2 linked regions of the Homo sapiens genome follow. The protein of the gene in region 2 purifies or fractionates together with the protein of the main gene of each other region. This does not show direct contact. Each region holds a gene or a part of one and is shown on either strand. Other genes may lie near its edges.

Region 1 (3,819 bases), on a different chromosome or scaffold from region 2:
CCCTGTTCCCAAGAATTTACAGTCTGTTAAGGTGATGGACATCACCTTCCCAGTTCTCCCAGGAGTGGTAAAGGGTTTGTCCAGTCATCTGCTTTGTCTTACCCAGATGGCTGGTGAGAAACGCAGCCGAGGCCAATGAACAGCTTTGCAGAAGATCTATCCTACAAATAGCACAGCACTGAGTATGAAATCTGTGCCAAAAAGAGAAGCAGCCAAGTGGGATGTGATTATTTTAAATAGAAATGAAAGCTCTGTATTCATGCCACTTAAACATTGTTCAGTTCACTCTGTGATGCCTTTGGATATTGGAGTAACAACCATAGAAGATTCATCAAACAAATTATAGAAGGAGCAGCCAGGTACCACAGAGTGCTCTTATAAAACAAGAAACTCCCAATCCAACCCCATCCACAAAATGCTTATTAGTCTTTTCTAATTCTCATTTATATTTTTTTAAAAAGATGTTTCTCCTAAAGATGTATAAAAACCTGCAATTTTACTTATGAGGTATTTGCAGGCCTTGCTTGCTTTGCAGTATTATGACATCATAGCATCCTGAACAAAATAACATATTAGAACTCACAGAAAGACTTCGTATCTCTGCAGGAAAAGTGTAATTATAAAAGCTTCTAGGCACACAGATAAAATTTTAACGCTAGATGGGGTCTCACTATGTTGTCCAGTCAGGTCTCCAACTCCTGGCCTCAAGCAATTCTTCTACCTCAGCCTCCCGAAGTGCTGAGATTACAGGCATGAGCCACTGTGTCCAGCCACTAAGCCTTATTATAAGATTTTTTTTATATTTAAAAAATCCACACAGAAGCAAAGTCAATTAAATTTTATTTCAACCAAGAATATAAAATAAATGCAATGTAATTTATTTTAGTTTTAACAGTCATTTCAAGAAGGAAGTCAGGTCAACTCAAAAGCAGGAAACCCTCGCTCCAAAGCAGTAGCTCGTCCTGCACTCCATGGAGCAGGCCTCGCTGGGGTGCAGCGGCTCTGAGCACAAACCTCGCAGTGGAGCACGAAAAGCTACAGTCATCTCTATAACCATATAAAGGGGGATGCGTGCAGAAAATGACTGAAAAAAGAGACAAGAACAGGTACACTTCACAAATAGGAATTATAGGAATATACAAACTAGGCAGTTTAGAAAGGATATACTACATAACATATATAAAAAGTACTTTAAATTGTTGTTAAAAAGGACACCTTCAGTCCAGATTTTGTGTAATACTTTTAGTGTCTACACAGACAAATCTTTAAAAAAATTAAATAGTATTAATTTACTAAATATTTAGGAGATAACAGTGCATTAAGGGTTTTTTTTTTTATATAATACATACATATCACCCCTTTGCAGTGATAGCATAGAAGAGTAAGTATGGCCTTAGGTACAACACGTTTTTTAAAAACCCTAAAACAATGAACTTTGTTATATTTGTGACTATTTTTGAGGATTATGGGGACCTAAACTGCTATGTTTTATACAAAATATTACTTGTACTTGAATCCTTCAAGCCTCTGTTGGTCTAACTGCCATTTCACTGCCTTTCTCTACTCCCTAGGAAGACATCATCATAGAGTTTTGGATTTGTAATTTCCATAGAATTCTTCCTTCATTGTATAGTTTCTGCTGCATAAATTTACTCAAAAGCACATCAAGTTGCATGTCTTATTTTCCAACTATTTTTTTCTTTTCTTTTACCTTTAGCAGAGAAAACAGCATCATTTTAGAGGCATAGAGAACAAGTAGCAGTTGCTTCACCAGGAATGAGGCAGCACACATAGGTAAATGTCATCCCTTTCCATTCTTAAGAGTCCATTATGTTCGTAAGAGCAAAAGAGTAGTGCAGAAGGCCAAAATTCTAAGTACTAAAGTTTCAAAACCACAGAGATATAAAAATATACATAATCCTTGGTCTTTGTATGTCACTGCATGATCTACTTCATCACAAGGATTGTTTCAGCCTCATAGTATCAGCCCTGCTGCCAAAGCTACCTTACCTTGAGCTCATCTGTCCTGCAACACTTGAATTCCTTTCACAAACACACACCTCCCCAGAAAGCTAACTCTGAAACTGGTTTGTAACACGAAGAGCAGAAAGCCTTCACTTGGATTCATTCCTTCCTGTCAATAACCCCTCCTAGTTTGGGTGTTCCCATAGGCTGAGGGATGCCCCTCCTGTACCCTTGGGGGACATAACAGTATCTAATAAATTTCAAAGAGAAATGCCATCATTTGGGGACCACAAAGGTAAAGTTTGCCCTCAAAAAGCTTCAAAGGTCTCCTTAGAGGTCCCACGGTTTGAGGGCCCTTACGTGTGTTAAAAAGGCTTTGTTCCCAACTGGGTGCGGTGGCTCACACCTATAATCCCAGCACTTCGGGAGGCCGAGACAGGCGGATGACCTGAGGTGAGGAATTCAAGACCAGCCTGACCAATAGGGTGAAACCCCATCTCTACTAAAAATACAAAAATTAGCCAGACGTGGTGGTGCGTGCCCGTAGTCCCAGCTACTCGGGAGGCTGAGGCAGGAGAATCACTTGAACCTGGAAGGTGGAGGTTGGAGTGAGCCAAGATCGTGCCACTGCACTCCAGCTTGGGTGACAGAGCAACACTCCGTCTCAAAAAAAAAAAAGGCTTTGTTCCCCTTTAAAGGAAAGAAAATGATCCAAAATTATTACTAAGGGTAAAGGGAATCAGTGGGTAGCACGAACCCTGAGGCAAGGAAAGAGGAGAAAAGAGCCAGTACCAGTGCAGGGATAGGAACTCAGTCATGTGTGGAATGGAGATTTCTGGCTATGTCCTGGAGGATATTGTATACTGGGAGCAACTGACGAAATCCCCTTACAGTTTATATTTCAGTTCTGCCAGCAAAAGTCATTATATACAAGGAAAACAGGGTAGTTCTGTGAATGTATAAGCGTAAGAACTATTTAACAATGCTGCTTATAAAGTATTAAGGGGCATAGTATTTTGGTTTACATATCTATCTGGGTTTGTCTTCTTTTATTAAAGGTAACCTCCTTGAGAGCAAGAACAGACCTTCTATTTTCCTTGCAATTTCCTACAACCACTTAGGAGAGTATGTTCTGCCTACAAGGACCACCCAGTTGTTGTTAAAAGGCTGCTGTGAACATTTCAAAGATACGTCAATGCCTTTTGTGATATTGAATCACTGGCTTTCTCTAAGGTAGACTGACATAGAAACCCTTCCATAATATTATTTACAGAACAGATTTGGGGATAGTAACTACCCAAGTGGGTTTAGAAGTAAACAAAAAGACCTTCATATTATAAGACAGTTTCACTTGTAAGTCAATCACATGGCACAGACATCCCAGGAGGGCTTACTGTCACAGATCACAAGCTCCTTAAGGACAAGAAGTATGCCCTGTCCTCTGTGTTCTCTACCCAGCAGGGCACCAGGCACATGGTGAGGGTGCAATAAGCATCTGATGACCAACAGCTCTGGACAGTGAGGCTTTAGGGCACAGGATAAAACTGCATATAGGCAGCTACATTATGCAGAGGGCTGCTAATTTCTTATTTTAAAAAATGGAAGGGGTAAAACAGCAGGAGACTATCAGAAACTCCTTCCAATGGAGCACGTAACCTGCTTCATCTTCAGTCTTGATGAGTGTCACTATGCAGACTTCATTATTAGTGAGCATTATTATGCTGAGATCAGTAAGGTCCTGGCTGGCTACAGTATCACATCAATAGTGCAAAATGTATACTGGCTTCTGTCTAATCTTATTTTACTTGTGTATGGACCCACAGTATCATAACCAGGTAGATAAGTTCAGAAAGA
Region 2 (3,823 bases):
AAAATACAAAAAAAGTAGCCAGGCATGGTGGCAGGCGCCTGTAGTCCCAGCTACTCAGGAGGCTGAGGCCGGAGAATGGTGTGAACCCGGGAGGTGGAGCTTGCAGTGAGCCGAGATAGCGCCACTGCACTCCAGCCTGGGTGACAGAGCAAGACTCCACCACAAAAAAAAAAAAAAAAAAAAAAAAAAAAAATATATATATATATATATACACATACATATAGCTTTTCAGACGTACTTCTTAAAAAAAAATCCTCTAGCTGATTAATATTATAAAGAACTACAGATATAATCCAAGGCAAATATGATAGAAATGTTAAATGCAGTTCTAGTAAATCATCTAGTAAAATATCACCTCTTCCACCAGAAACACTAATAGCATGTACCACACATTGGGAATATTCAAAGTACTTTTACACATATTACTTCATTTAATCCTCATAAGAACCATAAGAGGTAAGGACTATCTTTGTCATGTTTTTACAGACAGAGAAACCTAGGCACAAAGGGGATGAATAAAATAAGTTGTCCAGGCCAGGTACAGTGGCTCATGCCTGTAATCCCACCACTTTGGAAGGCTGAGGTGGGTGGATTGCTTGAGCTCAGGAGTTCAAGACTATCCTGGCCAACATGGTGAAACCCTGTCTCTATGAAAAATACAAAAATTAGTGGGGTGTGGTGGTGTTGTGCCTGTGGGCCCAGATACTTGAGGGGCTGAGATGGGAGACGCTTGAGCCCAGGAGACAGAGGCTACAGTGAGCCGAGATTGCATTACTACACTGAGCCTGGGTGACAAAGTAAGACCCTGCCTCAAAAACAACAACAACAACAAAAAAACAAAAAACAAACAAAAGGCTAGGCGCAGTGGCTCCCATCTATAATCCCAACACTTTGGGAGGCTGAGGCGGGCAGATCACTTGAGGTTAGGAGTTCAAGACCAGCCTTGACAACATGGTAAACCCCATTTCTACTAAAAATACAAAAATTAGCCAGGCGTGGTGGCATGTGCCTGCTGTAGTCCCAGCTACTCAGGAGGCTGAGGCAAGAGAATCACTTGAACCCAGAGGCAGAGGTTGTACTGAACCGAGATTGCGCCACTGCCCTCCAGCCTGGGCAACAGAACAAGACCCCATCTCAAAAAAAAAAAAAAACATAAAAAACTTGTCACATACCTCAGTAGTGAAGCAGGAATTCAAATCCAGCCAGTCTGACCAAAGTCCATGCTCTGAATCACTATGCTACTGAATTGCCCATACTTACAAATAATTTGGTAACTCTTAATTACATCCAAGCCTATAAACAGACTTCTGGAAGTATCAGGTTTACAAAGATACTTGAAATTCTTAGATGAGATAGGCTACACATGCATACAAGCAATGCTGCTAATTAATTCTCAATGTGATTTTAAGTTAGAGCTCCAGAAGTAAATGGTAAAACATTAAAGGTGGAGTCCAGGTAGAAGTGGTCAGTGGCAATTTAAACTGCCGTATATTGTTTAAAGCTCTACATTCATTATCAACTATAATTGCTCAAAGTACTAATTTTGTCAGAAAATTGTTAGTTGTGGCTCTAAAATCACCTGGCAAATTTTTAAGCCATAGGATATCATAATGAATTGGCCTAGGAAATGAAAAACACACAGCAACCAAATCAATTTAAAGAAATTTTACCTCTGCTAACCTTGTCCGAAGCTGACCTGGTTGTTTCTTTGCAAACAATCTGATGACCTCTGGGGTTTTAAAGGCCTGGCTGATAGCTGCCTGAATAGCCTAGAAACACAAGAAGGCAAAAACTAACCAAAATAGTCCAACAAATCAGATATTGCAATAACTGATTGACGGATCCTTAATTTTTATCAAGGTTTACTGGTTCCTGTCATGGAAGCAATTACACAACTAAATGAAGATCTGGAAGGATATGTTGTGTATGCATAAACAGACACTCATCTAGAAGTTACACCTTGGGAGGCCAAGGCAGGAGGATTGCTTGAGCCCATGAGTTTGAGACCAGCCTTGGAAATGTAGCAAGACCCCATCTCTAAAAAAAAAAAACTAAAGGCCAGGCACAGTGGCTCACGCTTGTAATCCCAGCACTTTGGGAGGCCGAGGCAGACAGATACCTGAGGTTGGGAGTTCAAGACCAGCCTGACCAACATGGAGAAACCCCGTCTCTACTAAAAATACAAAATTAGCTGGGTATGGTGGCACATGCCTGTAATCCCAGCTCCTCAGGAGGCTGAGTAAGGAGAATCGCTTGAACCTGGGAGGCGGAGGTTGCAGTGAGCCAAGACTGCCCCACTGCACTCCAGCCTGGGCGACAGAGTAAGAATGCATCTCAAACAAAAACAAGAACAAACAAAAAAACAAAGTCTGTCCTCTGTCGCCTATATGTTATACTTACCAGCTGCATTCCACTTAGTTCATCTACCAAAGTCATATTTCCAGACATAATTTTCTTTAGTGAATCATTAAATTCACTTAGTTGCTCCAGAGTTTCCTTTTTGGTTTCTTCATATTCATCTGTATCAAGTTCCTCTCTGAAATAGGTGAACATCATGATATGGAAAAATGAAGAGTTCCAAGTGAAAAATGCAATCTTAATACTTGTACATTAGAGAAAGACTGAAGGGAAATATCAAAATGCTGATGGTGAATGTGTTCACATAGTAGTAGTGAGGGCATTTTCCTGCAATATAGTTACTTTGGTAAACATTTTTCTTTTACCAAAATGAGGATACTTAAGAAACCACATAATAAAGCAGGGTGCCGTAGCTCACACCTGTAATCCCAGCACTTTGGAAGGCTGAGATGGGCAGATCACCTGAGGTCAGGAGTTCGAGGCCAGCCTAGCCAACATGGTAAAACCCCGTCTCTACTAAAAATACAAAATTAGCCGGGCATGGTGGTGCATGCCTGTAATCCCAGCTACTCGGGAGGCTGAGGCAGGAGAATCGCTTGAACTTGGGAAGCAGAAGTTGCAGTGGGCTGAGATCTCGCCACTGCACTCCAGCCTGGGCAATACAGCAAGACTCTGTCTCAAAAAAAAAAAAAAAAGCTGCAATGAACTGTTGTGGTCCTTTGTGCAGGTAAGGCTGAAACTACATGCCAGAAGTTCAAGTAGTACCTTCTTAGCCTGACAGCAGGTAGGACTGATTTAAATACTAAAGACAAAGTAGGTGTTATTTCTACTTCAAGGAAGGTAAGTATTTTGCTCAAGTTCACATGCACTTAGTAGTTAACTGAATGACTTTCATTTCCCAGCCTTTATGACTCCAAAGCCTGCAATAAGTTTACTTCTCTAATAGACAAAGCACTGCAAAGAACACTACAGGGGAATGCAGAATCATCACACATGGGCCTGCATCCACGGAGCTAGCTGCAGAAAAAACGCCAGTTTCCAGCATAACAACATACAATTAAACTCTTACCTGCATTCCTCCAGATCTTGTAATTGTTGCATGAGTCTATCCAACTGTTCTTCTAAATTCTGCTTTAATTTGCTTGTCTCTGTCTTTCCTCTGGAAGCCATTTTAATCTCTATGTGAAACAATAAACCCACATACCATATGAAATTAACATACCAGTGCAATTTTTTTAAGTTTTATTTTTTGTAGAGACAGAGTCTCACTATGTTGCCCAGGCTGGTCTCGGAACATCTGGCCTAAAGTGACCCTCCCATCTTGGACTACCAAAGAGGTGGGATTATAGGCATAAGCCACCACACCCAGTCCCTAGTGCAATTAAAAATATGCAGCTGCGGCCAGGCGCCGGTGGCTCAGGCCTGTAATCCCAGCACTTTGGGAGGCCGAGGCGGGTGGATCACA

Evidence for each region.
Region 1: the proteins of LZIC (region 2) and CDK19 purify together in Homo sapiens (affinity purification with mass spectrometry, with the first as the bait; one large-scale study listed by BioGRID). This does not show direct contact.

The regions. Positions count from the first base shown.
Region 1 is NC_000006.12:110,609,155-110,612,973, forward strand, and holds the end of CDK19 (cyclin-dependent kinase 19), read right to left. Parts: 3' UTR 824-3,819; downstream 1-823.
Region 2 is NC_000001.11:9,933,092-9,936,914, forward strand, and holds part of LZIC (protein LZIC), read right to left. Parts: intron 3,537-3,823; coding exon of another isoform or gene 3,529-3,536; coding exon 3,428-3,528; intron 2,537-3,427; coding exon 2,401-2,536; intron 1,770-2,400; coding exon 1,671-1,769; intron 1-1,670.